Linked DNA regions of Homo sapiens: all the other regions are linked to region 3. Evidence: fine-mapped expression QTL. A gene starts in region 3. Each other region holds a variant in brackets. All regions are shown on one strand. Distances are between the middles of the regions.

Region 1 (6,611 bases), 300 kb after region 3:
GGATGGAGTGCAGTGGCGCGATCTCGGCTCACTGCAGCCTCTGTCCACCCCGGATTCAAGAGATTCTCCTGCTTCAGCCTCCTGAGTAACTGGGATTACAGGTGCATGCCAACACGTCCGGCTAATTTTTGTATTTTTAGTAGAGACAGGGTTTCACCACGTTGGCCAGGCTGGTCTGAAACACCCGACCTCAGGTGATCCACCCGTCTTGGCCTCCCCAAGTGCTAGGATTACACGTGTAAGCCATCGTGCCCGGCCAGGGTAGCTCCTTTTTTACGGGCACACTTCCCATCTGACCTGTCAAGGTAACAAATTCCCTAGCCCTCGTCCACCCAGCTGGTATTTCCAGATCTTTATATTAGAATGTGGCTGTGCCTCTAGGCTAGGGGATATAAGAGAAACAAATAAATGTATTTCCTTATTCTTATCCAAGTGGTGGTCTAGCCTCCTTTTGTGATATTTATTTACCTTTTTACATTATAAACAATTTAAAAGCAAGAATATGCTTTACCTAATTTTGTATGTTCTATAGTGCCCACACCATAATTTGATAAATATTACATATTTTCTCAATATTCATAGAAAACATTATATACTATTGTTTAGTTTATGATTAAACATCATTATCTTCTCTGATTTCTTGATGAATTATTGATTCCCCTACCGTCTGAGTCAGATCCAGCTAAATTCTGCAGAAGCACGTTTTGCTGCAGAAACTTTTTCGGCAATGGCAATCTTAAAGCAGTTTCCTTTTTAGAATTTGAGCTTTCAAATTTGCTTCATATGTTGTCCAATTACATTAACCAAATAATCTTAAATTAGTTTAATCAAGCCTCAAATAAAAGACTTTTGCTAAGTGTCAGAATTTGGAATTAAAAACAGCAGAGCACAGCCCATTCAACAAATGCCTTGGGTTTTCTAGTTAATCTAGCATATAAACATTGAGCATGAAAACTACTAAATCTGAAGAGACCTTTAGCAACCCTTTAACACTAAAAGGGCCTTATTTCGTGGATCTTCATTTTAAAAATTTCTGTATTTGGAGTTATGTGATTGTTACTGTATCCAAACTTATATTTGTCCTTGGTTTATATTTATTTACAGAATTCTTATTTGAAAGATAAAAGGTATTAAACTGTACCAGAGCCATTGTTTTTTTCCTGTCAGGAATTGCAGAATTTTAAATAGCCTCATTTCCGTTTTTGTGATCTGTGTTCACACCGCTAGTAATAATGAAGTAGAAAACTACTCTTTTTGTACCTTATTGCTAATCTCCAGAGTTTTCTTTTACCTTACCCCAATAGTTTGTGTAGTACACATTCCTTGTAGGGTATTCATTTTATATACGTCAGATTCTCTAGGGCCGTGGCTTTTGCCAGATGAAGCACTTTTGATTTTGAGGCTGATGAAACACAGTGCGGTTATTGATCTGTGCGTGACATAGCCTGTCTCTCTCCTAGCAGAGTGTAGCAACATTTATCCAGGAATTTGTGAAATGTCACTCGGATCATGTTCGCAAGGCAAACTGTGCAAAACCCAGGATCAGAGCTGAGAATCCATGTGGAATTGGACGTGACTGTCTTATTCCTATGTCCTGTCTTCTATTCTAGATGAAGCAAGTGGTATTTGTTAACAGAATATCTGTGTCCTATATTAGACTTTGTAGGAAACTATTATTACCACTTGGAACACTGTATACTATAAAATTGCACTTCTTATACTCTGTTTTCAGATTCATTTCTTATCTTACCAAAGAAAATATTAATATGAGAATATGTGACCTGAATAGCATCAGTTAGAAATTTCTTTTCTGTTTAAAATAAAGCAGTGTTATAATATATTGCACAATTTTATATTTCTGGTAGTGTCCTGATTTTTTACATCAACATACTTTCAGATAGGTGTGTCTCATCAATATCAATGTTTCAGGAAGTGAAAAATTGTAGCATATTTATCACTATTGAATTGATATACTATTTAACTGTGCATATATTTTAGAGTTTGGTTTTAAATGACTAGAATATTTGTATGCACATGGATAAGTATGTTTGTTACAATTCAATTTAGTTTAATGTACCTAACACATGTAAAGCGCTATAATAATGGAATATTCAACAATGAATTAAATATGAACCTTGTCCCCGATAATAACACAGTTGAACATATGTATAATAATAAAAGGAAACTGTGAGATATAGAGATATATATGTATATGTGTGTGTGTGTATATATAACATGGATGTTTAAATGCATGTGGAGAGAGAGAGTTATTCGTTCCTGTCATTCTTGATTAAGGCTTTTGAAGGAGTGGTATTTGGGCTTAACCTTAAGGTTTTGTATGATTTTGGAAGTTGTGTGCATTGAACAAAGTCATTAGAAGAAAGGATAGCTTGAAAAGACATCTAGCTGACATAGCAGTTTGTTGAGAATAGTGAATAATCTGGTTTGGCTGTGGTTCTCAACCCTGACCACTTATTATTCTCACCTAGGGAACTTTGAAAAATACTTGTGCCAAGGCCTGACCGTAGACCAATTAAATTTGAATATCTAAGAGTTAGGCCCTGTACCTTGGTAGTTTTTTAAAGCTCTCAGGTGATTCTGATGTAGAATAAGGACTGAGACTAAGGCTCGAGAGACTAGAGATTGAATGCAAGCAACTAGATAAATTATTGTTTAAATATCAAGGCAAAAGATGATTAGGAAGAGATCTAGACAATATTAGTAGAAATAGAAAGTTTTTTAAAAAACAAGAGACTTTGCAGTGTTATAATCCCAAAAGTTTGATGAC[C/T]AATTGCATATAGGAAGGTAAAGAAAAAAGAGGTATTTAAGATATTTTTCAGGTTTTTAACAAAGTGAGTAGAAAGTTGATGATAGAAGAATTGTATTTGTGACAATGTAATACACTAAATATTGTGGTGAGAAAATACCAAGAAAGTTGAATAAAATATTAAAAAGGGCCTCATAAATGCATACTAGAACTTGCAAAAAGAATTAAAAAGAAACTAAATCCTTAGGATCTAAAATCAACAACAGCTTATCGTTTGTAGCCAAATGGTAATTTGTTAGTGAACTGGAAATATCAAGTAAGTAGTAGGATATATGAGTTTAAAATTTAGGGGATAAGCCTGGGCTAGACATATAAATTTTGCAGCCATGAGTATGTAGATGGCATTTAAAAATGAAGCTGAATGAAATCACCAAGGGCGTGGAGATAGGTACAAAAGAGATAAGGTCCAAGATCTGAGCTCTAGGCCCTCCAATATTCAGAAGTTGGACAGATGAGAAAGGACCAGAAAGGAGAGCCAGTGAAAGGGAAAAGCAAGAGAAAAGAGAATCTTAGAAGCCAAATGGTTAAAGTATATCAAGAAGGGAATGATATACTTTATCATTCTCTATGCCAACTGCTGCTTATTAGAATCAGTTCATGGGAGGAATTGAGGAATGGGAACAGAAAGAGAGGAATTGGAGGATATAATTAAATATGCATACATTTTAGAGTTATTTTGAGGAGATTTGCTGGAAAAGGGAGCAGAGAGCCTCTAAAATATAAACATCTAATAACTTAGGCTCAAAATAAATAATTCATGTATTGATAATATCAGTACTTTTAAGTAATGCTGATAAAAAGTCATTAAAGATATACATTATTTTAACAGAGCAATAAAAAGTCTTTCTCTAAGTATTTATCAAAAATGTTCACATAACTAGGCCACAAAACAACATTCCATAAATTTCAAAGGATTTGTATCATATAAATAGTATTATCTAACACAAGTGAAGTAGAAAATACTTTAAAAAGTTAACTTAAAAATATCTGATGCGAATTTATAGAGGCATTTCTAAAAACTAATGGGTCAAAGAAGAAAACAAAATGAAAATGAAAAATACTTTAGATTGAATCACAATGAAATAACACAGATGGAAACTTTTAGAATGTGACTAAGGTGGTACTCAGATGGAAATTTATATCCTTAAATACTTGTAGTAAGATTAGAAGAAGTCTAAGAATCACAGAGCTAAACATTTTATTTAAGAATGAGAAATTGAATAAACCCAGTGTTGTAGACTAAATATATGTGTTCCCCCATAATTCATAACCCCCAATGTGATCATTTCAAAAGTGGAGCCTTTGAGAATTAGTTAGGGTTACATTAGTTCATGAGGGCGGGGCCCCCATGATGGGATTAATGCCCTTATAAAAAGAGGAAGAAACAGGAGATCTCTCTGCTCTCTGCCATATGGCAACTTGGAAGAATGGCCTCACCAGACACCAGATCTATCCACAACTTAATCTTGGACTTCCCACCATCCAGATCATAATAAGTAAATGTTTGTTATTTAAGCCATGCAGTCTATGATAATTTATTATAGCAGCCCAAACTAAGACACCCAAATAAAATAGAAATATTAAAATAAGGGCAAAGTTGATACTGTAGAAAGTAAAAATGCAGCAGACATGATCAACAAATCCAGAAGCTGGATCGCTGAGACTAATAAGTTGACAAACATTAACAAGTGTTGATAAGGATATAGAGAAATTGTAACCTTCATACAATGCTATGGGAATGTAAAATGGCACAGGCATTTTGGGAAATGGTTTGACAGATCCTCGCAAAGTGAAACATAGAGTTACCAAATAACCTACCATTTCCACTCCCAGGTATACATTTAAGAGAACTGAAAACACGGCCGGGCATGGTGGCTCAAGCCTGTAATCCCAGCACTTTGGGAGGCCGAGGCGGGTGGATCATGAGGTCAGGAGATCGAGACCATCCTGGCTAACAGGGTGAAACCCCTTCTCTACTAAAATAAAATACAAAAAAAAAAAAAAAAAATGAGCCGGGCGTAGTGGCAGGCGCCTGTAATCCCAGCTATTCGAGAGGCTGAGGCAGGAGAATGGCGTGAACCTGGGAGACGGAGCTTGAAGTGAGCCGAGATCACACCACTGAACTCCAGCCTGGGCGACGGAGCGAGACTCCGTCTCAAAAAAAAAAAAAAGAACTGAAAACATAAGTTCACATAAAAAACTTGTACATTAATTGATAGAAGCATTATTCATAGTAGCCCAAAGGGGAAACAACCTATGGGTCCATCAACTTATGAATGGAGAAAAAACTGTGGTGTATCCATGCAGTGGATTATCATTCATTAATAAAAAGGAATAAAATACTAACATATGTTACAATATGGATGAACCTTGAAAGCATATTGCTGAGTGGAAGAAGCTAATAATAAAAGACCATATACAGTATGATTCTACTTATATAAAATGTCCAGAAAAGGCAAAATCCATAGACAGAAATTGGATTCAGTGGTTGACTAGAGCCAGGGATGGGAAAGGAGTTTCTGTAAATGGGCATGAGGTTCTTTAGAAGTACTCTACAATTAGTGTGTGGTGATAATTGCACAACTCTGTAAATATACAAAACATCCTTAAGAAATAAACTTAAAGAAGTGTACACCACCTTTAAAAGATAAAAACGTGCCAACCAAGAATATTATGTCTGGCAAAACTGTCTTCAAAAATGAAAGTGAAAGAGACTTTCCCAGACAAACAAAAGTAGAGGGACTTCATCACCACTAGACCTTTCTTAGAAGAAATACTAAACTGAGTTCTTCAAGTTGAAACAAAAAGATGCTAAACAGCAATACTTAAAAGCATGTGAAAGTATAAAGGTCACTGGTAAAGGTAAACAGTGGTGTGTAATCACTTTTTATTCTGGCATAGAAATTACAATAATAGGTATTAAAAAACATAACTAAAAATATGATAATGAATACATAATATAAAAAGATGTAATTTGTTTCACCAAATTACATGTGAGAAGTAAACGTATGAATATTTTGTATGTGATTGAAGTTATGTTGTTATGAGCTTAAAAGATTGTTATAAACAATATATTTTATGTAAGCTCCATGGTGATCACGAAGAAAATACCTATAGAAGATACATGAAGAAAGTGAAAAAGGAGTCAAAACGTGTCACTGCAAAAAAAAAAAAAAATCAATGAAATACAATGAAAGATAGCAACAGAGGAAAAGACAGACAAAAGAGCTATAAGACAGAAAACAAGGTAGCAATAGGAAATTTTTTCACCATCAGTAATTAAATATAAATGGATTACATTCCCCAGTCAAGAGATGGAGAGTTGCCGAATGGATTAAAAAAACAGAATTCAGCTATATCCTGTCTCTATGAGACTCACTTTAGTTTTAACGACACAGGCTTATAGTGAAGGGATGGAAAACTATATTCCATACAAAGGGTAAGCAAAGGAGAGAAGGGGTGGCTATACCAATATCACATATTAAATCAAAAACCATTATAAGAGACAAAGACATTCACCTGAAAGAAGGGCCTATTCACCAAGAAGATAAAACAGTTATAAATATTTATGTGGCAAACCTCAGAACTCCTGTATGTATAGGAAGGAAACTTTGACAGCTGAAGGGAGAAATAGGCAGCAACACAATAATAGGAGACGTAAGTACTCCACTTTCAACAATGGATAGAACAAGATTAATCCGGAATCAGAGGACTTGAACAAGACTGTGGACCAATTGAACCTAACAGATATGTAGAGAATACTCTACCCAACAACAGCAGAATA
Region 2 (6,611 bases), 270 kb after region 3:
GTATGTGGAATGCCTGACAAGCATGACAAGAACCACATATAGACACCTAAGGCTATGCGATTTCTGTTGACAACTGTTCTCTATTCAAAAAGCTAGTACTACTGGGAAGAGGCTGCAGCAGTGGCAGATATTTTATTTCCACAAATCCCCCATCAAAATAAACAAAACAAATAGGAAGGCATAGCCAAAATCTCAAGGATAGCATCTACAATAGAATTAGTGACAAACCCAAAATATGAACAGGTAGGGACAGCCATCGACAGCTGTATGACTTGCACTGTATCAAGAGAGAGAAAATTGGTGTCCGGAGAAAAGAAAAATACAGTTCTTCTATGAGCTATCTATACCAAAAGACCAGAACTTCCTCACTGAACTAAGTCCCACATGGAGGGGATGACACTGTGAAAAGAAACTGAATTATAGGGACAGTAGCCCCCTCTGTTGGTTATGTATCAACTTGTTATGTGTTTTTGGATGAGATTAACATTTAAATCAGTGAGCTTTGGATAAAGCACATTGTCCTCCAGCATGGAGATAAACCTCATTTAGTCTGTTGAAGGCCTGAATAGAATATAAAGAATGGCCTCTGTGAGCAAGAGGGAATTCTCCAGAAAATTGCCTTCAGATTTAATCTGCACCATCAGCTCTCCTGGGTCTCTAGCCTGCCAGACTTCACACTAGAACTAGAAAATTGACTTTCCTGGGTTTCCACCTGCTGGCAATTGGACTGAAGCTACACCATTAGTTCTCCTGAGTCTCTAGCCTACTGGGCCATACTGTAGATTTGGACTTCCTAGCCTTCACAATCACATGAACCAATTCCTAAAGATATATACGTGCATGCATACATCCTGTTGGTTCCATTTCTCCAGAAAAACCCTGACTAATCCACCTCTCTACTTCCCACTCCCACTCCAAAAAAAGTAGTGAAGATTGAGATCAATGTTGAGGGAGTGCGTCAAAAGAGGCATTTTTCAGTATATCAAAAACTTGGAAGGAAAAGTTGGAAGATTGGTGACAGGGAGGTCTGTGGGAAGGTTGGTGGAAGATTGGTGGCAGGAAGGTCTGTGGGGAGGTTCGTGGATGGACCTTTTGGAAGAGATACACACAAAGCCCATTCTGTGAACAAAATGACCCATTGTATAGATCTTGCCTATTTCACAGCTATCTGAGGGCTTGCTTAATGGGTTCATGAACAAAGTGGCTATGGCAACAGGTATAGCTTCTACATGGCACAGGTGTCCTGCCACTAATCTTCCAATTTTTCCTTGCAAGCTTTTGAACAAAATTGACTTTCTTTCACCAAAACTTGTCTGGCGACTGGGCTACTGGCACTGTTGAATATTCAGCCTGTTCACAAAAAAGACCAATTGCAAATCCCAAAAAAAAGCTTCATTCTCCAGAGGAAACCAACCAGTCTCTTAGTGTCAGGTTGATTACAGTAGGCCTCTTCCATCATGGAGGAGGCATCAATTTTTTTTTTTTACAGTAGTTTTAAGTATTTTAGGTATGGTTTTGTCTATTATATTTTTACCAATATTACCATTCTTAGATTTACAAAATGACTTATATATCCCTATGATATTGCAGAAAACTGCCTCCTTGGATGCACTTGCTCAATCTTGATCTCAACCTTGGAGGTAGGACTGGGAGGTAGGGAGGTGGCCTAGTCAGCATTTTCCCAGAGAAGCAGACTGAAAGACACATTTTCTTCTTAGTTTGAGACAGAGTCTCGCTCTGTTGCCCAGACTGGAGTGCAGTGGTGTGATCCTGGCTCACTGCAACCTCTGCTTCGCGGGTTCAAGCGATTCTCGTGCTTCAGCCTCCCAAGTAGCTGGGGCTAGAGATGTGTGCCACAACACCCGGCTAATTTTTGTATTTTTAATAGAGATGGGGTTTCACTATTTTGGCCAGACTGGTCATAAACTCCTGACCTCAGGTGATTCACCTGCCTCAGCCTCCCAAAGTGCTGGAATTACAGGTATGAGCCACCAAGCCCAGCTAAAAGACAGAGTTTATGGCAAGGGATATATGACAATGCTCTGTGTCTTCAAATTCACTGGTATTACTATATTTTTCATTATTCAAAGGCAACTGGCTGTATACGACAGTAGATGATCAATAGGCTCCGTTATGGCACCAGCTAGAAGACAATATTGAAGTTAGGGTATATGCCCTAAACTGAGAGTTTATTATTTTATCTCCAAGAATGCATAGGTCCAGGAATAAAGTATTTTAGGTTGGCGTGGCCGCTGTAATTATTTAACCAAGTAACCCACTGGAGGAGTTTTTGCTTCTCATTAGTATGATCTTGGGCTAGGGGATTTGAGAGTCCTGATGCCGAAGGTAGGAAAGTTCTTTGAGGGAACACAATTATGGTCTGTAGAGGTAGA[C/T]GCTGAGATTGTACCCTGGCCATTTTGGATTCCCTATACTGAGCTAAAAAGCGTCAAAAGGAGCTACGGTATTAGCCAGAGCAATTATCCCAATTATTGAGGTAAAATTAGGAGGACCATGTTTGGAAACCAGAGAATTCATTATACACCTGTTAGTACTCCTTTACCTAGTAGTCCTCTGTATTTGCTGTCCTTGGCAGTGAAATTTTAAAAAGTTGTGTACAATCCTTGTTTCAAATTCCATTCATCCCTTCATCATCCTTCTGAAACAAATTTTTTTTTTTTTTTTTGAGACAGAGTCTTGCTCTGTCTGCCAGGCTGGAGTACAGTGGCGCGATCTTGGCTCACTGCAGGCTCCACCTCCTGGGCGCAAACGATTCTCCTGCCTCAGCCTCCTGAGTAGCTGGGACTACAGGTGTACGCCACCACCCCAGGCTAATTCTTGTATTTTTAGTAGAAATGGGGTTTCACCATGTTAGCCAGGCTGGTCTTGAACTCCTGACGTCAGGCAGTCTGCCCACCTCGGCCTCCCAAAGTGCTGGGATTACAGATGTGAGCCACCGCGCCCAGCCTAAAACAATTATTTTGAGGGTCACTACCACTTTGCCAAATTCAAAGGTTGATTCTCAGTCCTCACCTTACTTGACCTCTCAGCAGCATTTGACACAGTTGATTTCTACCTCTTGTTATTATAGTTTGCCATACCATACTCTTTATTTTCTTCTTCTCACTGATATTTAACTTCAGTGTCATTTGTTAGTTTTGTGACATTCCCCCTCAGTCTCTCAATTTTTAAGAGCTTCAGTCATTGGACATTGTCTTCAGTCAGTGGACATTTTGTGTTGCTATAACAACACACACAAAAAAATACCACAGACTGGATAACTTATAATGAAAGGAAATTTATTTCTTACAGTTCCGGAAGCTGGGAAGTCCCAGGTTGAGAGCGCCACATTTGATGAGGGTCTTCTGGCTGTGTCATCATGGCCGAAGGTGGAACGGCAAGGAGCCTGATAGAGCAAGAGGGGGCCAAATTTGCTTTTATAACAAGCCTGTTCTTATAACAAACTCACTCCCATGATAACATTAAATCGTTCATGAGGACTCATGATCTAATCACCTCTTATTAGATTCCACCTCCCAACACTGTTGCACTGAGGATTGTGTTTCCAAGATGTGAACTTTGGAGGACACATTAAAAGCTGCACTCATTGTTTTGTGATCTCATAGTATTTATTAACATCATTGTTACCACCTATATTCCAGCCACCCCAAAATGTATGTATCCATTCTATACCTCACTTCTGAATTTTATTTTATTATTATTATTTTTATTTTTTTAGATGGAGTTTTGCTCCTGTTGCCCTGGCTGGAGTGCAGTGGCGTGATCTCAGCTCACTGCATCCTCTGTCCCCTGGGTTCAAGCGATTCTCCAGAGTAGCTGGGATTACAGGCATGTGCCACCACACCCAGCTAATTTTGTATTTTTAGTAGAGATGGGGTTTCTCCATGTTGGTCAGGCTCTGAATTTTAGACATGTAAAGTTGACTGTCAACTTAGCATCATACTTGGATATCAAATAGCCTAATACAAATTCCTGGGCTTTACCCCACCAAGCCTATTTCAGCTGCTGTCTTCCTCTTTCTCACTAATGATAATTCTATCTTTACAGTTGCACTGACCAAAAGCTTGATACCATCTTTGATTCCAGTCTTTCTGTCAGTCATTACATCTACTCTGTCAGGAAATCTTGGTGGATTTCTTTAGAAAAATATCCAGAAGTTGACCATTTCTTATCAATTTTGTTTGTCATCACTCTTATATCTATCATCAGTTGCCTGGAATATGAAAAGAACTTTCCTAACCACCCTCCCTGCTTTCAGCCTTGTTTTTAGTCCATATTTACTGTGTTCTACCTACACTGGACTGACTGTTGCTCGCTGAAAGCAGGAACTTTTAACTTAGGGATTTTAGTTTGATGTCTTCTGCCTGGAATGTATTTAGCCAGATATCTAAAACAACCAACTCCCTCTCCTCTAAGTTTTGCTTCAGTATTACTAATGATCAATCTATTTCAGATTTCAGCCTGCCACCATTTTACCTCCCATAATTTGGATTCCTTCCTCTTATCTTGCTCATTTTTTCCCCAGTGGTCCTTAATAATTTATAACATACTATATCATATTTCAGATTTATTGTGCTTATTGTTTTCTTCGTGGATAGACTAAATTTATTCATGGATAGACTGTAAAGAATTTGTTCATCAATTCTTTCACATGCATAGGGCATAGTAGCCATTCAATAAATGTTTTTTGAATAATGAATGAATAAAGAATTATAAAGAGAAGGAAGCACTCTGCCCCATCACTAAGACACGTCTCCCTCCTTCTGCCCCTGCCCACCCCCCACCAAGGGCTCTCCAATCAAATCTAAACAGTTTGTTTTGAGAGTGTCTTATTGTGAAATATGCTGCTTTTTATGACACTTTTCATACCACTTTGGCCATTACATATTGAATTTCTGCTAAGTTTTGGCCAAACAAAAAAGAGGAATAGAACATAAAAAGAGGTAAACAATTATAGTAGAACACATAAGCAAATAGATTATAGTATTCTGATTCAGAAATAATGAATTCTGGGATACTGAAATAACTTGTAGATTTGATCAATTGCTGTTGGTATTTTGAAGGAGAACCCAAATGATATGAGAATATGGGAAACAGAAAAGTGTAGTTGTGACATTAAAAACACAAAGATGGGTAATTCTATAGTTGGTGTTTTTGAAATAAATCCTAAGTAAGGTTCTGGGACATTATAAAAGAATACTTTGTGAATGTTTCTTAAAAGAAGTAGTGATTTCTCAAAGCCAGTATGAGTTCTTCAAGGGAAATTCTTATCAGACTAACCAGTAACCTTTTAAAATAGAATTACACTAAATACAGAACATCTGAATTCCATCAAAGCATGTTTATCAAATTGTGATTAACATGACGTTGAGAGGGATGTAAAATACGTCACACAATAGAATCAAGATCCCCAAAGATCTCAGTAGACTGGGAATATAGTTACACAAATGCCTACAGGGTAGTTTATTTGGCTATAAAATACCAGTTGCACTGTACAATGGGAGAAATATGTGGCTTTAATAGTTGTCTGGGTGGTTTTGTTAAATCTTATTTGAAATACTTTAGGTGGTTTTGTTAAATCTTACTTGAGTCTATAGTATGATGTATACGCCAGAGAAGCTTACACACTTTTAGTCTGCATCTACCAAGAGTTTTACTCAGTACCTCTCATAGTGTCCCAGGAAGATGAAACTGAATTCTGGACATGATGCTCCATCATGATAAGCTGAAACACATTCAAGACTGACCAGGGAGGCTGGGCGTGGTGGCTCACGCCTGTAATCCCAGCACTTTGGGAGGCTGAGGTAGGTGGATTACCTGAGGTCAGGAGTTCGAGACCAGCCTGACCAACATGGTGAAACCCCATCTCTCCTAAAAATACAAAAAATTAGCCAGGCATCGTGGTGGGCACCTGTAATCCCAGCTACTCGGGAGGCTGAGGCAGGAGAATCGCTTGAACCCTGGAGGTGGAGGTTGCAGTGAGCCGAGATCGTGCCACTACACTCCAGCCTGGGTACAACAGAGTGAGACTCTGTCTCAAAAAAAAAAAAAAAAAAAAAAAAGACCAAGGAGATAAGGCATCTCAAAAGTATATACGTTAGGAACATTTGAACAAGCTAGGGATGTTATTCTTCATGGTGTCTCAAGCAGCATATAATGATGTCTAAATAGTTAAAAGCTCATCCATGTGGGAAAGGGACTTACTTAAATGTTCCACACAACCTCAACACTTCCTGTCTCCTACCCTTGTTTATTTTTATTTTTTTTCTCTTTAACACATCACTATTGACATAGTATGTATTTTACTAAGTATTCTTGTTTCCTGTCCCTCTACCCTGACCAGGATAAAGGTTACATGAGGGAAGGGATTTTTTTTCTACTTTGTTCACTACTGCCTTAGCCTTCATGCCCACAAAAGTCCCTGGGCCCGGCTGGGTGCAGTGGCTCATGCCTGTAATCCCAGCACTTTGGGAGGCTGAGACGGGCAGATCACGAGGTCAGGAGATCGAGACCATCCTGGCTAACACAGTGAAACCCTATCTCTACTAAAAATACAAAAAATTAGTCAGGCGTGGTGATGGGCGCCTGTAGTC
Region 3 (6,611 bases):
AGAAAGAACTCCTTATGCATACTTCTAGAAATGTGCACGTTTCTTTTCTTAAAAATTGTCTGCCAGTAAAGAACTTTTATAACTCTACAACAAAAAGACAAATAACCCAATTAAAAAATAGCAAAGAACTTGAATAAATAGATATTTCTCCAAAGAAGAGAAACAAATGTCCAAAAAATACATGAAAATATGCTCATTGTCATTAGTCATGGGGAAAAATACAAATGAAAACCACAAGGAGACAGCACTTTACACCCACTAGACTGGCCATAAAAAACAAACAACAACGCATGCTCTCACTCATAGGTGGGAATTGAACAATGAGAACACTTGGACACAGGGTGGGGAACATTACACACTGGGGCCTGTCATCGGGTGGGGGGAGGAGGGAGGGATAGCATTAGGAGATATACCTAATGTAAATATGAGTTAACGGGTGCAGCACACCAACATGGCACATTTATACCTATGTAACAAACCTGCACGTTGTGCACATGTACCCTAGAACTTAAAGTATAATTTAAAAAAAGCAAATGACACAAAACTAAAACAAAAAATAAGTGTTGGTGAGGATGATGAGAAATTAGAATGCTAATACATTGCTTATGGGAAGGTAAAATGACACAACCACTGTGGAAAAGAGTTTGGTGATTCCTCAGTAAATTAAACATATGACCTAGACATTCTACTCATAGGTATATAAACAAAAAATTGAACATAAATGTTCAGACAAAAACCTGTACGTGAATGTTTATAGCAGCTCTGTTCACAATAGGCAAAAGGCAGAAAGAACCCAAAGGTCCATTAACAGATGAATGGATAAACAAAATGGAGGATATCCATACAATGGTATATTTTCAGCTATAAAAAAGAATGAAGTACTAATACATGCCATAACATAGATGAACCTTGAAAACATTATGCTAATAAAAGAAAACAGACACAAAAGGCCACATATTATATGGTTCCATTGATATGAAATATCCCAAACAGGCAAAACCGTAGAGACATAAAGGGAATTAATGGTTGCTTGGGGCTCGGGGGCAGTGAGAATGTGGAGAGACTAATGTGGGTATGTGGTTTCCGCCTCCGGTGATGAAAATATTCTGGAACCAGATAGTGGTGGTGGTTGCCTAACATGGTGAATGTAGTTAATGCTGCTGAATTGTTTTTTATTTGTAGCCATTTTATTTATTTATTTATTTTTTGAGACAGTCTTGCTTTATCACCCAGGCTGGAGTGCAGTGGTATGATCTTGGCTGTTTGCAACCTCTGCCTCCCGTGTTCCAATGATTCTCCTGCCGTGGCCTCTCTAGTAGCTGGGATTACGGGAATGCACCACCACTCCCAGCTAATTTTTGTATTTTTAGCAGAGACGGGGTTTCACTATGTTGTCCAGGCTGGTCTCGAACTCCTGGTCTCAAGTGATCCACCAGCCTCGGCCTCCCAAAGTGCTGGGATTGCAGTCGTGAGCTACCACGCCTGGCCTATTTGTAGCCATTTAAAATGCCTACGATGGTAAATTTTATGTTGTGTATTTTGTGTATTTTGCTCCAATAAAGACAAAATTTAAAAAAATGCCTAGTCAAAGAGTCAGGATATTATCCTTTTGGGAGGTCACATATACATATTTATACCACTGCTTTTCAAAAGGATCTTTTTATGATCAGGTGAAATGATGTCCTTTTGAGTGAATGACATACAGCAATTAAAAATGTGCATTAATACTGATTTGGGGCCAAACACGTAACTTATGTGGTTAGACTTCCCAGTCTTAAGTCTAGTGAAATCTCACAGACTATCAAGACCAAATGTTGTATTTCAAGTCACAGGTGTGGAGACAGGGTAGCGATCAAAGTACAGGTTTTCAGAGTTAAGTGGAATTCAGTGAATTCAAAGCCTAGCTTTTCTGATACCAGACATGGCACTTCAGAGAAGTTACAGTAACCTTGCAAGTCTGTTTCCTCACTAGTAAAAATGGAGATATATAATAATCTAATTGAAGGTGACATATGTATTAAGTGAGTTCATATATGAAAAGTGCTTAGCACTGGACTCAGCATATGGTAAATGTTCAGTAGGTTAGCTAGTTCTAAGACAGGCTTATAAACATACTTTTTCTAATGTACTCTTTAATAAGTTTTTGTGAGGAATTCACCTTCAGTTTGAAAGAAGTCCACTTATCTTGGTTGCCTTGGCAGGATTCTAATTGGGAGGGTGTCTTTTGGCATCCTGACTAGATTCTCATGCAGAGATGGTGATATTTTGGTTAAATGAAGTTAACAGTAAAGTGGTCATCTCTCTACTTCTGCTCTCAACCCCCATCTCAGCTTTCCCCAAGTATTCTGGAACCCTTTCTGAAGAAGAGGGCAGTTCTAACTTTCAGGGATGTTCTGGTGCCAGCTCAATATGCATCTCATTAATCTTATCAATAGTAACAAAGTATTTGAAGGGCAAAGAAAGATACGATTACTACCTATTTGAAGTTTATAAAGAAAGCCAGAAGAAAAAGAAAAAAAAGAGAACAAAAGATAAAGTAGGTCTTGTTTCTTCATCCACGCTCCAAATTACTGATTTCAAACTGCTCCAAGGACCCAAACTGTTCAGCAATGTGGGCTACACTTCCTCTGATATCCAGCCAACGCATAAAGAAGCTGACATAAAAACTCAAAGGAAATCATGACTCCTGCAAAACAAAAGACAAAGGGTGTACAAAGGATCATCATTCAAGTTGGAAACCTGCTTGATAGTCCCAGATCAGCACAAGGCTTTCCACATCTCCTTGACATTAGTCAGCTGGATGTCAGCTGTACTAAAGCAGTTTTGCCAAGGGGTGTGAAGAAAACACTTAAGTGTAAAACGTATTCCTTGATCCTCAAGGAGCTTACAACAGGGCTGGGGAGATTAGCCGTGTAACTGACACTCCAGGGCGGTCAATGAAACGTGTCACACGAGTTGGCAGGGGCCTTGAAGGAGAGGGATTTCACAGTTAAGGATCATTTGGGGCTGGGGGCTTGTCAAGGAAGGCTTTAAGAGGTGGGATGTAAGTGGCAGGCAGGGCTTTAGGTGGGCGGGAAATCCAGGCGATCCTGGCCAAGGACTCAGGCACAGGACGCTGGGATGGCCTGCCCGGCGGACCGGCCTTACCCTTTCGGGCCACGGCGCGTGCGTACCCCAAGGCTCGCGCTGGGCGCATTGCCCGCGGGAAGCCGGCCAGGACCAGAGAACACGGGACACCGCGGGCCAAGGCGGGAAAAGCCTCGCGCATGCGCGGTTCGGCGTTCCGGGCTCGCCGGGTTGGGGAAAGGGAGGTGGAGTTTCCAACAGGGAACTTGACCCGTTAGCAGCCGCAGCCATGGCGGCGCGTTCGCCTCCCTCACCGCACCCTTCGCCCCCAGCGCGACAGCTGGGCCCCAGGTCCCCACGTGTTGGGCGGGGAGCTGAAGTACACGCAATGCGCAGCGAGGCCTCGGGTTTTGCCGGCGCAGCGCGGGAGGTGGTCGCGGACGAAAGTGATAAAATCTGGGTGGGTGAAGAAGGGTCAGGGGGCCGGCGAGGGCCTGGGGGGGCAGCTCCGGCTCATGCTCCCCTCCTCAGCGCGCCCATGGGGTCCAGACGGCTAGAGGGCATCTCGGTAGAGGAGGCGATGGTGACCCGGACGCAGCTGCTGGAGGAAGAGCTGAGCAGCCTAAAGGAGGAGTTGGCCCTGTGTCAGGTATCGAGGAGTCTCGCAGTCCCCCTTTCCCCACCACAGCGGGGCCGGGACCCGTGGGGAGGCGCGCCTTTCTCCCTCTGCCTTGGGACCTACCCCGCCCAGCGACGCTCCCTGGCAGATGCACACCCTGCTTCGCTCGCGGCCGGGGGCTGGAGGGACGCGGCTGCGCCCGGCTCCCCAAACCCGGGCCCCTGCCCCTTTCCGAACTGCGGCCAGACAGGCTTCGCCTCCGCGCCCGGGTTTGGTTTTGGTCACTTGGATACTCGCAGTCGCATCCTCTCCGCTTCCCCCCCAAGCCCAAGTTCTTGGTGGTGACGGTAGCTGATACCTGCCGGGGGCCCAGGAGTGACATGCAGTCCACTAGTTGAAATGAACAGGAAAGTGTAAACACTTCGGTTAGAGTAAAATCCATCGATGAAGGAGCCTGTTTTTAAAATTTCAAACCCACACTTGGCTTTGTTTTTACCCAGTCAAACTTAAGTTGTAAACACAGACGAGTAACGTTTAGAAAGTCTCAGAGCCGGGAACTTAACAATAGATGATGCTTGGTACTTGTTTATTAACCAGCTATGGTAATTCCGCGGTCCTTGAGTGAGAAATCACATTTTCATGTGATCTTGCCAGTGAAAAACATTTGCTAAATCAATTGCATTAAAATTACTTTCCTGTTTGTAGAGTTTTTGTAAGGATGGACTTGACTATACTCATGTTCAAAGAGATTGAATTTTCCTTTAGTTTTGCATCCTTACCATCATCTCTTTTGATTTTACCAGAACCTTTAGATAGGGTTGGGAGATTGGATGTGGGAAACTCACTGAACAGTAGATCTTTAAGTCACTCTGTCTTCAACTTAGAAACCAATTAGGAGCTGCTGAACATCAAAGTAACTTTGTGAACAGTATCATCAGTTTAATAAAACAGTTCATGAAATTCATTCTCTGTCGCCCAGGCTGGAGTGCAGTGGTGCAGTCTCAGCTCACTGCAAGCTCCGCCTCCCGGGTTCACGCCATTCTCCAGCCTCAGCCTCCCGAATAGCTGGGACTACAGGTGTCCGCCACCACGCCTGGCTAATTTTTTGTATTTTTAGTAGAGATGGGGTTTCACCGTGTTAGCCAGGACAGTCTCGATCTCCTGACCTCGTGGTCCGCCAGCCTTGGCCTTCCAAAGTGCTGGGATTACAGAAATTCATTCTCTCATAGTTTGTTCTGTTGGATTCTTTTGCCCATTTTATAGGTCCTTGCTGACTGAGTGAAGGGTGTAAAAATGGGACCATCTTCAAATTGAATGTGCCTTTGGTTAAACAAGGTTGGGACATTTAATATGGTGCCCTCTTTTCGTTTTACCATTTTTCTGTTCTTCGTTGGATAAGGAGCAAAGGGATAAATAAATGACAACAATGAATTGAAGCATTTGTCATCTGCAGACCTCACCCTTTGGGGAGTTTTAAGATGTGAACCCATGATAAAGGCCTTTGATACTCTGAGTCCTAATCTAAGACACTCTTTGGCATATTTTCCGCACTCTTTCCTCCCACTTCTGCCTCCCCACATAGTTAGGCCTTTAGCTGGCTAAAGAGCTAAGATACTTTTTTATGACCGACTTGGTTAAGGAAGTCAGTCTATTGGAAACAGCCTGATGAACCTCTTCCCACAAATACTTACATTCTTTAAAAATGTGGCTCCAAACATGGTGTTGGCTTTTGTGACCTCGGACATATATAGACTAGGAAAATGATTGACATACTCTTGGCAAATGTAAGAATACAGAGATGGTCATAATAGTCTAGAATGATGATCTCTTAGATTTTGTAATATTAATACTCTTATATAATTGTAGGCAGTATCCCGCACCATAAAAATCTTAGTCAAATCAGACTCCTGCTCTTCGGGAATCTTGGGGAAAAATAGTAATTGAACTCCCAATTGTTTTGTAAAAAGCATTTAGGTGATTAAATATTCACTTTTATATCTTTTAAAGTATACTCTCCCGCTTATTTATTCAGCTAGAGATCACAGTACCCAAGAATACATAGCATTAAAACTGCTGAAAATTACAACTCGAAGTAAAATTTTGTATCTCAATCTAGTAAGTACACACATATACAAACATATATTTTCAGAAAGAATACATGCCCTAATACTGTGTGGGCTGATATTTTTTCAGTTCTATTCCTTTAAAAAATGCTGTCCAGATCTAAATTAATTTCAGAACCCAACAAGGCTTGAAACATACAGTTTAGGAAAAAGAACACTGCTAATTAGTCCATGGTCATAAGTAGTAGCTTCATTTAATTTGTTTTGCTTTCACATTCAACTTATGGGAATTCAGTGATGTGTGCTTGGTGAAGTTTGAGTAATTCCCCATACCATTCTACATCATTGGAATGCCTCAGAATAAGCATGTAATAGAAAGCAATCAAATGTTTCTCTTAATATCAGCATCTCATCCCACTCTAAGTGATTGTATTATCTAATTAAACTTTAAAAAAATATGGCCCCCTGATTAGCAACTGAACTATAAATAATGCTTATATGAAGAAAAAGTGATTAATTTCAATGAGGGAAGAAAAGCTATCTGTATTGGACTTACTGAGGGTAGTAGGTAAGCTTCCAAATGTAGCTTTTTCCTAAGGAATTTTTCAAGGGTGTTCCAAAGGGTAATTTTGCATCCATGGCATTTAATGCCCTATTTCACTAATTTAGAACCTAACTCCACTACACTTTTAATTTTGATTATATATTTCAAGAATGTGTTCTGTTTGTGATAAAGGATGCTGGGGCATGTGTATTTGTACATTTATCACCATTTATAGAGTGAGATGAGAAAAAAGTGTTATGTTTACATAGAAAGAGTAATATGTTTATATAGCATTTATAAAGCTTATTTTTTGGTATCA
Region 4 (6,611 bases), 290 kb after region 3:
TATCTGTTGTAGGTTTTATGATTTCAGGTTACCATGAGGTCTGCAAATAATGCTTTGTAACCAATTATTTTAAACTGATAACAACTAAACTCTGATTATAAAAACAATAGACAAGCAAAGAGAAACCTAATATACACTCTCCATTTTAACTTGATCCAATCCCCACTTTTACAGTTTTTGTTGTTTATATCTTTTTTGTTTACACATCACAATTACACTGTTATTCTGTATTTGTGTATGTACATGCTATTACCAGTGAGTTTTTTTACCCTTAGATGATTTCTTACTGCTTATCTACATCCTTTTCTTTCAGGTTGTAGAACTCCCTTTAGCATTTCTTGTAGGACAGATCTGGTGTTGGCAAAATTCTCAGCTTTTGTTTGTGTGGGAAAGTCTTTATTTCATATTAGTGTTTGAAGGATATTTTTGGTGTGTATAATACACTACGATAAACGTTCTTTTCTTTAGCACTTTGAATATGTCATGTCCCTCTTTCCTGGCCTGTAAGGTTTCCACTGAGAAGTCTGCTGTATTAGAGCTCTTTTATACGTTATTTATTTTCTTTTTCTGCTCTTAGGATCCTTTCTTTATCCTTGACCTTTGGGATTTTGATTATTAAGTGCCTTGAGGTAGTCTTCTTTGGGTTAAATCTCTTATTTGGTTTAATTCTATCACCCTCTGATACGTGAATTATTCTCCTGTGTATTTTTAAATAGCCCATCTTTAAGCTCACTAGTCTTTCTTCTCCTTGATCAAGTCTGCTGTTGAGAGACTCTAATGCGTTTTTCAGTTTGTCAATTGAATCGTTCAGCTCCAAAATATCTGATTGGTTTTTAAAAATTATTTCAATATTTTTGTTAAATATCTCTGATAGGATTCTGAATTTTTTCTCTGTGTTTTCTTGGTTCATTGAGCTTCCTTAAAACAGTGATTTTGAATTCTCTGTCTGAAAGGTCACATATCTCTGTCACCCTGGGATTGGTTACTGGTGCCTTATTTAGTTCATTTATTGAGGTCATGTTTTCCCGAGTGTTTTTGTTGCTTGTGGATGTTTGCTGGTGTCTGGGCATGAAAGTGTTAGGTATTTATCCTAATCTTTGGATTCTGGGCTTTTTTGTGCTCATCCTTCTTGTGAAGGCTTTCTAGATATTCAAAGGAATTGAGTGTTATGACCTAAGTCTTGGGTCACTGAAGCCACAAATCCGCTAGGGGATACCCTAATCCCGGTAACACTGTGATTCTTGCAGACTTGTACCACCTTGGTGGGCTTAGGTAAGATCCAGGAGAATTCCCTGGATTGCCAGACAGAGACTGTCATTCTCTTCCCTCACTTTGCCCCAAACAAAAGGAGTCTCTCCTTCCATGCTGGGTTGCCTGGAGTTGGGAGAGGGGTGACTGAGTCACTTCGATGTCCACCACTGCTGAGGCTGTGCTAGGTCACTCCTGAAGCTAGCAACATAGTGGTTATTGCCCAAGGCCTTTGGCAACTAGTGCCTGGCTGCCACTGATGTTTATTTGAGGTCCAAGGGCTCTTTAGTCAGCAGGTAATGAATCGTGCCAGAACTGGGTTCTTCTTTGCAGTGCAGCAGGTTCTCTTCTGGCCCAGGGTGGGTCTAGAAATGCCGTACAGGAGCTAGGGCCTGGAATCTGGGGCTTCAGAGATCTGCTTGGTGATTTATTTTACTGTGGCAGAGCTTTTACCCAAGTTGCAAGACAAAGTACTCTTTACTCTTCCTTCTCCTTTCTGCAATCAGGAGTCTCTCACTGAGCTTCCCTGCCTGGAGTAAAGGGAGGGGTGATGTAAACACTCTCTTTACTACCACAACTGATGTCTCAGTGGGTTATGTGCACTTCAGTTCAACTGGCTCCAAGCCCAGCACAGCACCCAGACTTGCCCAAGGACCGCAGATTTTATTATTGCCTTTCATATTTATTCAGTACTGCAGGACACTTTAGTTAGCTGGTAGTGGAGCTTGCTGGAAGTCAGTTTCCTACCAGTGGGGTGAAGGACTCCTCTAGGGCGGGGATAGTTTAAATGCACCTTCTCTGGGCACCAGCAGAATTCCGCCTTGTGTTGTGTTCCGCTGTGACAGGACTTTGCTCTGTCCCCCAAGCACACAGATTCTCTCTCGGCTCAGTGTAGCACTGCTGGGGAATGAGGGAAGGATGATGTAGGCAATGCAAGACTCTCTTTTCTACCCTCTTCAGTGCCTCTTTCTTTGCTATGATGTTAAAACCAGCTTTTAACCTGGTTTGCCTGATTGCTTACCTGAATTTTGGTTCTTAGGAAGGTGCTTTCTTCCCTGGATAATTGTTGAATTTGATGCTTCTGAGGGAAGAAAGTCACTGGAGTTCTGTTTGGCCATTTTGCTCTGCTTCCCTCCCTCAATCTCATTTATTATTAAACTTAATTCGTTAGAATATATTTAAGGTAAATTTTCTTAAAATTTGTTTCTGATTAAAACAATGTATTTTTTCTCCTTACATATTAAAATCTGTATTGCAAAAGTGAACATCAAGGGATAGAAATAGGGTAAGGCAGACTATATTGACTTACTCTTCCAGTTTGAATGATCAGATTTTTGACTTAAAGGTGTTACTCATAATTTAATTGAAACATGAAAATTAGTCCCAAATCTTAAGACTAACAGGATGTAAATGCTCTCTTTTTTTGTTCCAATAATATTACTTAAGTGTATTATGGCTGTGGATACCTCTTTCTAGTAACATATGTGTCATCCTAAAGACTCAAACAGTATTAGCTCACAGAGACAAACTACCAGAATCATATTATCAAAGAAAATGTGGCCATTACCCATAGCACACTTTTTAGAAAGTCTGTTGAATGTTTTATAGTAGGCACTAAATATGTATAAAACTTCAGCTGACAGATTTTGCTGTGGTTTCAATATGTCCTCCAAGTTTTATGTGTTGGAAACTTAATCCCTAAATTCTTATGTTGATTAGAGGTAGGGTAATTAGGATTACATAAGGTCATCAGCAGGGTCCCTATGATGGAACTGGTAGCTTTATAACAGGAGGAAGAGAAACCTGAGCTGACTGGCACACTCTTGCCCTTTCACCATGTAATGCTCTCTGCCATGTCATGACCTGGCAATAAGGCCTTCACCAGATGCCGGAACCATGCTCTTAGACTTCCTAGCCTCCCAAACCATGAGCTAAATAAAACTCTATTCTTATAAATTGGCTAGTTTGTGGTATTCTGTTGTAGAAATAGACAGCAAACTAAGACGGATATCACATGAAATTTTTGTGGAGTTATACATGCTGTTTAGTGTATCTTCTAAAAAGCTCTCTCCTGAAATAATATCTATATTTAGCGAAAACAGAGTAACCTTTATCATTCATTTATATATGAATGGATGAGTTATTTTATTGATTATCTCTCAATGTTTGTTTAAATAACAAAATTGGTTTCAAGAGTTGTATTATTGCTACAGACTGAATTGTGTTCCTCCAAAATTCATGTTGAAACCCTAACTCCTGGTTTGATGGTGTTGGGAGATGGGGCCTTTGGGAAGTAGTTAGAGTTAAAGGAGGTCCTGTGGGCCCTCATCATGTGGTTAGTGTCCTAATAATAATAATAAGAGACACCCGATTCTACTCTCTCTTCCATAATAGGACACAACAAGACACCTGGCATCTGCAAGCCAGGAAGCGATCTGCTGCTAGAAGCTGACTGTGCTGACACCCTGATCTTAGATGGCTAGCCCTCTAGAACTGTGAGAAAGTAAATTTCTGTTCTTTTAGCAACCCAGTCTGGTGGTTTGTTTTGACAGCCCAAGCAAACTAATAGATTTTGGTGCCAAGAACAGGGTGCTGCAGTAACACATCAAATGTGGAAGTGGCTTTGGAATTGGGTAATAGCTAGAAGATTTTTGAGGTGCATGCTGGAAATACGTAGGTTAAGGGTGATTCTACTGAGGTTTCACATGGAAATGAGGAACATGCTACTGGAAACTAGAGGAAAAGCAATCCTTA[T/C]GATAAAATATTTTTTTTAAAAAAACCTTGGATTGGCTGAATTGTGTTCTAGTGTTTTGTAGAAGATAGAACTTGTGAGTGATGAAGTTGGTTGAAATTTCTAAGCAAGCATTACAGGAATGGCTTGATTTCTCCTGATTGCTTGGTTAAATCTAAAGGAGAGAGATAAACTGAACAGAAATTATTAAGCATAAGTATACCACAACTTGGAAGATATGGATATTTTTCAGCCTACTGATAGTGCAAATAACGAGAAAGGTTGTTTTGAAGAGAACATTAAGAGTGTGGCTGTACAATCATTTGATGAGGAGATTTGTGTGAATGTGAACCAGGGACCTAATCCTTCTTAGCAGAAATCAGGAACAGAGATTGGATTATGCCAGGAGCAACCAGCTGGGTCTAAAGGAAATGAAGAAATAGACAATGAAGGAAAGCTGTCAAACTTCTTGGATTTTCTGGATGGGCCAATAGATCTATTTAACTATAAACCTGCACAATCTTTCAAGAAAAGAGAAGGACCCCAAAAGCAATTCACATATTGCCATGTTGCCACTCCCATCACGGGCCCAGAGTGCAAAGGCTAAGGGATTAGAGCTACCTCCACATTGGTTTTAAAGAGAAAGAAAGTGTATAACTTCTAAATTGTAGTAAGAAATAGAATTTTTAAAAGTGTAAAAAGTAGACTAATATCCATTAATCTAAAACTATTTACTGTTTGTCTTGTTTCGATAGTCTTCCTACATCTTACATATTGTTATCTGAGAGAGCTAAAGTCCAAAATTTTTGTCATGTTGTATTTATATCCATATGTACATGTATATAATATATATACATTTTATATATGTAATAATTTTATTTGAGTTATTAGAATCTTTTTTATGAACTCTTGTTCTCTTCTTGGACTTTAATTTCTTCTTTTGTATCTTTAATCATTTTAAACAAACTTATATATTCTTTCAAGTCACATGTTCTTGAGGTTCTAATCTTCCTGTTTATTTTTTCTGATTACTTTGAGCCAGGATGGGATGTTTCTACATGTGTGTACAGTTTTAATTTGCAGCTCAGCAAATTAAAATTGTAATTCATTGTGGTAATTCCTTGAACCCTGTCTTTGGGGAGCATTCATCCAGACTACACTACTTAATATTTATGTTAATTTTCAGGGTAGTAAGATTCCTGACCTACACTGAAAAATTCAGATTTCAACCCACATGAGGTAAAGTCACAGATATAAACATTCCCAGTAGAGATAACTGAGAATTTTTGTACTCTGCCCTGGTCCCAATCAGAGACATATTTCTTTATTACCTTTCTATCCTAGCAATATTTTTTAGTCTACCCTTGAACTGAAGTTGCAGCACTCCAGAGGATTCTCAAATTTGGCCTCTCCGAGCCCAAGGTCAAAGTTTCAGCTCCTGCTCCCACAATTCCTGAAGTTGCTGGCCCTGGTGATTTCCATGCAGCAGGTGCTACCGAACCTCCAGTCACATGCTCCGTGCTCTGCTGCTGGCTGCTCTCTATAGGTGACTATGATCCCAGCACTTGAGTTGCTGCTTCTTTTTTTTTTTTTTTTTAGATTTTTCAGCAATACTCGAAAAGAATACTTGATATCATATATTTTCTATGTGATACAGAGGGTTTTCAGGTTATATTGTCTTCCAGACTGCCAATCTTTAGATAGTTTAAAAAAAATTTACCTGTATTTCCTGTCAAATATGATATCAAAGATTGAACAAAATATTTAAAATTTCATGAGTAAAGAGTACAGTGGGTGTATTTTAGCCTGTAAATCTCACATGAACTTTCAGTGGCTGTTTTCTTTTTTTTCTAAATTATTTACTAGAAGAACAAAGACAAATCATACTAATACATATAGGCATGACAGTTCAATACTATTCCAATTCCTTTTCCCACTTAATATTTTCTTTACTTCATGATTCTGTGTATTTGGTGGCTAAGGCAATTAAAACTACCAACATTTAAGGACTGATCCTTGAAAATATTATTGCCCTTAGTTGAAGTAAGCCAGTGTTGGGGCTCTCAACGGTGGATTATCACATCTGTACCATAGTAGTCATCTTTCCTCTTGTCTCAGATTTCCAAATTTGGCTGCATAGTAACCCATTAAGATCATTCTTTCATTCATCAAGCATTGCTTGGGTATCTTCTGTGTGCTAGGGTCCATGAAGTATAATGGGAACACAACAGTGAACTAGACACAGGTATGGTTTTACTCTCATGGAGCTTATTTGTGGTAAGAGACAGAATATAATAACCATGCAACAGAATAAGTAAAATAATTAAAGATTACAGAGAGTGCATTGTAATTAGGGATAAAGGGAGAGAATGGTTGGTTTTAGATCACCCTTGTTCAAGGAATGGCATTTCTGAGAAGGTGACATTGACACCAAGGCCCAAAGGATGAGAGGTAGTGTAACAAAATTAGCAGAGTCACTTTCAGGTTTATTAGGAGTCCTCTTGCACTTTTCAACTTCATGAGTACACTGCCCTGCAGTACAGAAGAAGGATAATAAATATTAATGGGGAAAAGTTAGTCCAGACAGATTATGATAATAATAATAGTGAGAATAGCTAACCTTTACGTGCTT
Region 5 (6,611 bases), 190 kb after region 3:
AGTAATCTGACAAAACTCTACTTCAGCCAGGTGATCAAACTGAATATCAACAGTCATAAATCATGTTGATAGCATATACCCTTGATATGATGTGATGAAAATGGCACTTTACCTCTATGATCTTCCTTCTCAAAACTCATAACCCCAGTCTAATCATGAGAAAAACATCAGACAAATCCCAAAGGAGGGGCATCCTACAGAAAACTGTCAAGGTCATGAAAGACAAGGAAGGTCTGAGAAAACAGCCAAAAGGAGCTCTAGGAGATATAGGAACTAAATGTAATGTATCCTAGATGGGATCCTGAAACAGAAAAAGGACCTTAGGAAAAAACTAAGGAAATATGAATAGACTATGTCCTTCAGTTACTAATAATGTATGAATATTGGTTCAGTAATTGTAACAAATGTACCATACTAATTTAAGATGTTAATAATAGGGGAAACTGAGTGGGTGGGGGTAGGAGGTCAGGGAGAACTCTGCATAGTATCTGCTTAGTTTTTCTTTACATAAAAAAACTGTTGTAAAAAATAAAGTCTATTAATTTTTAAAAAGTATGTTAAATGACAAAAATATAGTAGTTAACCTTTTTTTTTTTTTTTTTTGAGATGGAGTCTCACTCTTGCCCAGGCTGGAGGGCAGTGGCGCAATCTTGGGTCGCTGCAAACTCCGCCTCCCAGGTTCACGGCCATCCTCCTGCCTCAGCCTCCCGAGTAGCTGGGACTACAGGCGTCTGCCACAGTGAGACGGGGTTTCACCGTGTTAGCCAGGATGGTCTCGATCTCCTGACCTCGTGATCCGCTCTTCTCGGCCTCCCGAAGTGCTGGGATTACAGGCATGAGCCACCGCACCCAGCTGTTTCCTTTTTTTTTTTTTTTTCAAAGTCTGAGAGATATATCACAAACTTACTAGTAGGAACTTTGAGGGATGAGATTGTGAAGAGACTTTTATTTATATTTCCCTTACCTATACTGAAATTTTTACATTGAACTCATAGTCATTTTATTTGCAAAAAAATAAATATTTCTATTTTGAAAAGCATTTAGGCCGGGTGCAGTGGCTTATGCCTGTAATCCCAACCCTTTGGGAGGCCGAGGCAGGTGGATCACCTGAGGTCAGGAGTTCGAGACCAGCCTGATCAACATGGTGAAACCCCTTCTCTACTAAAAATACAAAAGTAGCTGGGCATGGTGGCAGATGCCTGTAATCCCAGCTACTCAGGAGGCTGAGGCAGGAGAATTGCTTGAATTCAGGAGGCAGAGGTTGCAGTGAGCCGAGATTGCACCATTGCACTCCAGCCTGGGCAACAAAAGTGAAACTCCGTCTCAAAAAAGAAAAAAAAAAGCATTTAGTGACATGTCCATTGTAAAATCTTTAAGGAAATTCAGGTAAGTACAAAGAAAATAATTCATATTACAGTCCCTCTACTTAGAAATCACACTGTAACATTTCAGGGTTGTTTTTGTACCTTATGCATGTTTGGTGAAATCTATTTCTACATATAATATACCCTTTTGTACCCTACTTTTCTCAGTTTATCATAGATATCTTTCCATTTTAGCCTTCAGCATAATTAGAAGTAAATTAAAGGTTTGGTACATTTTTATGAGCTTTGATGCATCTTTCATAATTTCTCTAGAAAATTGATAGCAGATTATACTTCTACCCACTACCACATTCTCAAAGTAACCCATAAACTGGGTCCAACCAACATTTGAAAATTTGGACACTCTCCTTAGAAATCCTAATTCTTTGCTTTTCGTGAAAAATCAGTAAATCTAGCAACAGTGGGGCACATTCTTCCCTGAAAACAATTGGCTGGAGTTGAGCGGCAACTGCCCTGAATTCCCTCCTTACCACTCAGCAGTGGGGCTGAGTGTTGACACTTCATTTTGCTCATATTTAATACTTAAAAAAATGGTTTTATTAGGAGAAATGTAAAACACTTCTTGTAAACATGTCTGTAACAAAAGTGATAAAAGGCAAGAGAGAGACAAACCAGACTTAAAGAAAATGGGAACATGAATAAGTTACTTTGTGAAGGGGAGGAACATATCTACTTGGTTAATATGTATGCAAAATGCCTCTGTTGGATGAATTTTAAAGCTATTACTTTAAAACACATATTTATTTATCTGCATTATCTTCCTGGCTTCTATTCACTCTTTGATAGTATTTTAATTGTGAAGTTCTCTGATTTTTTATTGAGGAATTTTGAAGGAATGCTGCCTAAATATCCTTTATTGTTATCAAAAATATTAATATCATTAATATAATATCAGTAGAAATATTAAAAATGAATCCATTATTATAGTGACAGTATCCACTGTTGGAGCATTGTTAATGTCTTATATTTGAGTTATTTATCATAGCTTCTTGACTGAATATTAATTTTATAATATTCCTAGCTATAGCATTATAATCCATTGATGACTTAGGAAGTTCATTTATTGACGAACACAAGTTTGCTTGTTGGATATACCAATAAACTAAAATTATGTTTTTCTGATTTTATTCTAAGTTTTTGTTTGACCTTAAACAAATTATTTAAAATTTATTTTGTATATGATAGGATGTTAATATAACATTTATAATTTTATTAAAGGAAACCTAGACAAGAGCAGGTAGCCTTTGAAATAGTTTAGCTTGGCAGCCCAACCAAAGGAAATATTTCTAAACCTCAGAAGTTTGACTATAAAACAGGAGAAAAGATAAAAAATAAAAGTTGTACAACGATTAAAATGGGGATAAAAGAATAGGGCAAAATCATTTAGACTTCCTGGAAGAGAAATGCTTAAAATATTTTAATTTGATGTTCAAAGCAAGATAATGAAATAAGTAATATATTGTAAGTATGGTAACAGTACAATGTAAACAATACTTTGAGGAAGATAATCATATGGTAGAATAAAGGTTGGAAACAAATGAGGTGATTTAAATATGAGAAAAGTGTAATAGTATAAATCAAATATGGTCCCTCTCATTATACAAATTGCAGGTTAGAATTAGGAAAATTTTGCGTATCCTCTCAAAAAAGAAAAAAGCAGGCACAATTGGAAAAGGATGATGTTTCCCATTGTTGGTTCAAAAAAGTTAACCGTATATATTTTTCTCATAGTACTTAGGAATATCATTTAGGAAGGATGGGGCCCTTCATCAGTTTAAGTGCAAATATTTTCAGGGCTACTAGATCCTTATTGATAATGTTAGAATCATAAGATTTGACATTTGTTTGCCTGTAAGTCAACAAAAACTGTTTTCATGTGATTCTGTGTTTTTGTTTTTGTAAATGTAGTTGTTAATTTGAAACAGCGAATTTGCATGGGTTTTAATGGCCTC[A/G]AATACATTCAGTGGAGATGGTAGTCAAATTTTGCAGAATTCCAGTTTTCATGAACAGGTTTCCTACAAGATTAGTTTTCCTGTGACTTCTGTTGTTAAAATGTGGAGCTTACCATTAGCAGTTTATCTGAAACATGAATAAATTTCAAAGGAGAATGCTGTAAACTATATTGACTTAAAATTGTCAGGGTTCTTTGAGGAGTTGTTATTAAATTAGTTTACAGTAAAAGCTGATTGTACTTATAATGCTGTTGTTTTCCTTTTCCCAGGTTTATATTCTATGGTATTGTATGACTCTTGATGACCAGATGGTGGATTGACTGTTTTGTGAGGCAATACATATGTGTATAATCAGAAATTTGAAATGACTCATTTATAGATGAGTGGTGTGTATCATGCAGCCATGCTTTAAATTTTTTTCCTTGAAATCTATATGACAGCATTATTTATGAAAATACTTGCATATAGACTCTTGGTTATTTTATTGGAAAATACTATTCTATGGAATGAAAAGGTTCAGCTCCTGCTAGTTTATTATTAAAAGGAAAATTTCCTTCTCTGAATATTTACAATTTCTATAATATAGTGTTACATTTAACTATTTATTTATAAATAATGTAAGATACAAACATAGATATCTATTTACAATTATACTTTTTAAAATAGGTACCTCATCGCCCATCCTTATCAAGCTTAGAAACGTTAATGGTTTCACAGAAGTCTGAAATTGAGTATTTACAGGAGAAACTAAAGATAGCAAATGAAAAACTGTCAGAAAACATATCTGCCAACAAGGGTTTCTCCCGAAAGAGCATCATGACAAGTGCTGAAGGAAAACATAAGGTAGGGACATTTTGTCATTTTGTGAATTTGCCAGGATGAGGCTGGAAAGACAAGAGATGAAGTTAAAAAACAAATGGCAGCATTTACTTCTCTGCTTGTATTTCGGGAAACTTTTGAAAAATATTATGTACCGAACTCTTGTTAAATAAGTTTTAGGAGTAAGGAGTTTTCCCTTTTTAAAGACTGAGTTATATTCCCAAATTAGTTAATTAAATATATTATTAGTGCTATACCCATTTTGTCAGTAAATTAACATTCTTATATTAAAACTTTGGTAAGTATTCCTCATCTCTCTCATATATTAATCTATCTGATTAAAAATTTATTTTTAAATGGTATTTACTCACTTTTCTAATTTGAATTAAAAGAAAAATATATCTAATATGTCTTTCAATCAGATATGATGTTTAAAATACTGTCTGTGTGGAAAATAAAATAGTAAATGAATTTTAACACTAACTTCTGCACTTGTTATATATTTTTATAGATTTAAAGGGATAGCATTAAGAGAAAAATAAGCAAATTTTACATGTTTCTCGTTTATTAATGTCTCAATTTTTTTTAGTATTCATTACATAGTTGTGTTACGCTGTAAAAGATTCTACAGAATGTTGACTAATATAAAAATTCTAAAATATCATGTAGTACATACATTATTTCTAGATAAATTGAAATAACATTTTCCTCAGAGTAAGAGTTTTAGCATATTTTTCACACGCTTGTTACTTCAGCAATAAAGGAATAATAGTTTTTATAATAGGAAGCCATGTTGTTAAGATAATTGTTTTTGTTTCTTTCCATTTTTTCTTATGGGTAGGACAAACTATCTTAATAAAGGAAGTATTTAAAATTTGAACCATGTTTCTGTGGTACTGTTATTCATGCTCTCTGAAATTATTAGTAATTTTCAGAAAATGAGATTTATTTATTAAAACATAACTGCATTATACATTTCTTGCCATTTTGAAGTAGTTTCACAAGCACTGAACTTTATTTAAATGAAAGAAAACATTCATAAAATTGAAATACAGCATTACCGGGCCTAATTTGGTTGCTTGCTCGATTGCTGAAATTTAAAAATGTATGACTTTGACTTTTTTCTGCCTTTAATAAAAGTCAAGAAAAAGAGAGGGGTATTATGGCCAAAATTTTCTTTCTTTTTGTAAGGCCATGCAGTAAGGATGAGCACTGTGTTGCCCAGCTTAATAGTTGCTTTCACATATTCTTTCTCCAGATTGGTATATGAAGCTGTACATAATATAAACGTATTCTTGTCTCTAGTTAGCCACATTATAGTTAATGACCATATGGTCATTATGGTATAAGATCTACTGTCTGTTGTATTTATATTCCTCAAGCATATTGTTCCTTCAACTTCACAGTGTGTTAAACTATTTCAAAGGGAAAAAAATCCTTTCCCTCTTGTTTCTGGTTGTCCTATCAAGTGTAACCTTGGACCCTTATAGAGCAATTAGACCAGCCTCTATCCCCTCCTTTGTAATGAGGTTTCTTGCATTTCTGAGTCTATAACCCTTTAGTCTTCCCTAATGGGACATCATTATTCTGAAAGAAACAATGTAAATGTAAATGAATATTCTCATTAACGAGTCACAGAGAAACCTTTAGCGGTAGCACTGTGGTAATTCCGCTTGTTATTTCTCTGGTATTCCATGCAGGATTTTTTTTTTTTTTATAATTCATTATTAGTATTCAAAATTACTTGTTCTTTAATTTTGCATGTCTTTCATAATCCAGTGTTCCAACTAGTTCAACCATGTCCTTGTTTTATTCTCGAGGAACCACCTGTGAAACGTTCAAGGTCTTTGTCCCCAAAGAGCTCTTTCACAGACTCAGAAGAGCTACAGAAGCTGAGAAAAGCTGAAAGAAAGATTGAAAACTTAGAGAAGGCACTACAACTAAAGGTGAACATTAAATCATTTCTTTAGTAGTAACCTTGCAAAGATAAAAATATACCAAAGTAAACATACAGTTCATAGATTACTAGTTGTCCTTTTTCTTTCCTGAATTTAATTGCCTGTATAAAAGTGTATAATCAGTTCATCTTGTTATTAAGATTTCTGAGGATGATAAAATAATATAAAATATTTGCTACTTGAAAAGTAAATGTTTATTTACTACTTTCAAGTTATTTGGTAATATTTTGTCTTAAAATTGGGAATAAATTTCTTAACCCTTTCCCAAAGGCAAAAAATAGAATTGTAGCAAGTGAAAAGAGAATTTCTTCTTCTTTATATATGATAAACATATGTAAATGAAAGTGAGTTTAAAAGCATATTAACCTAGCTCAGATCACTTACAATTATCCTTTATAGAAAAATTACATTTAGTCAAAATGAAATATATATATATTTTTTCATTTCAGCTGAATTTGTCTCAGAACATGTGACATTTGAATGAGCACTCTACCATG

Which allele goes with the higher level. Positions count from the first base shown, and alleles are read on the strand shown. Sizes are in standard deviations (SD) of each study's normalised expression. Not every link is listed here.
As copies of T replace C in region 2, the expression in monocytes of the gene that starts at base 3,330 in region 3 goes down (moderate effect, 0.69 SD a copy in BLUEPRINT).

Evidence for each region. PIP is the estimated chance that this variant, and not a neighbour inherited with it, causes the effect. A credible set is the group of variants that fine-mapping cannot tell apart.
Region 1: its variant is the best candidate, but not a certain one, in a credible set for the expression of CNTLN in whole blood (TOPMed, PIP 0.81).
Region 2: its variant is the best candidate, but not a certain one, in a credible set for the expression of CNTLN in monocytes (BLUEPRINT, PIP 0.77).
Region 4: its variant is the best candidate, but not a certain one, in a credible set for the expression of CNTLN in prefrontal cortex (GTEx, PIP 0.63).
Region 5: its variant is the best candidate, but not a certain one, in a credible set for the expression of CNTLN in whole blood (INTERVAL, PIP 0.67).

The regions. Positions count from the first base shown.
Region 1 is chr9:17,435,605-17,442,215 of GRCh38, forward strand. All of the region lies in intron 18 of CNTLN (centlein), which reads left to right. Among named protein-coding and RNA genes, the nearest start is that of SH3GL2, 140 kb to the right of the region's middle. The variant C/T (reference allele first, on the strand shown) is at 2,789.
Region 2 is chr9:17,402,073-17,408,683 of GRCh38, forward strand. The region is part of intron 15 of CNTLN (centlein); the gene reads left to right. Among named protein-coding and RNA genes, the nearest start is that of SH3GL2, 170 kb to the right of the region's middle. The variant C/T (reference allele first, on the strand shown) is at 2,394.
Region 3 is chr9:17,131,711-17,138,321 of GRCh38, forward strand. CNTLN (centlein) reads left to right here and starts at 3,330. Exons shown (of 26, transcript NM_017738.4): 1 at 3,330-3,715. The coding sequence starts at 3,356. RefSeq lists an enhancer at 3,611-4,174.
Region 4 is chr9:17,421,725-17,428,335 of GRCh38, forward strand. All of the region lies in intron 18 of CNTLN (centlein), which reads left to right. Among named protein-coding and RNA genes, the nearest start is that of SH3GL2, 150 kb to the right of the region's middle. The variant T/C (reference allele first, on the strand shown) is at 4,003.
Region 5 is chr9:17,326,629-17,333,239 of GRCh38, forward strand. CNTLN (centlein) reads left to right here. Exons shown (of 26, transcript NM_017738.4): 9 at 4,004-4,180; 10 at 5,977-6,102. Among named protein-coding and RNA genes, the nearest start is that of CNTLN, 190 kb to the left of the region's middle. RefSeq lists an enhancer at 5,396-6,042. The variant A/G (reference allele first, on the strand shown) is at 3,338.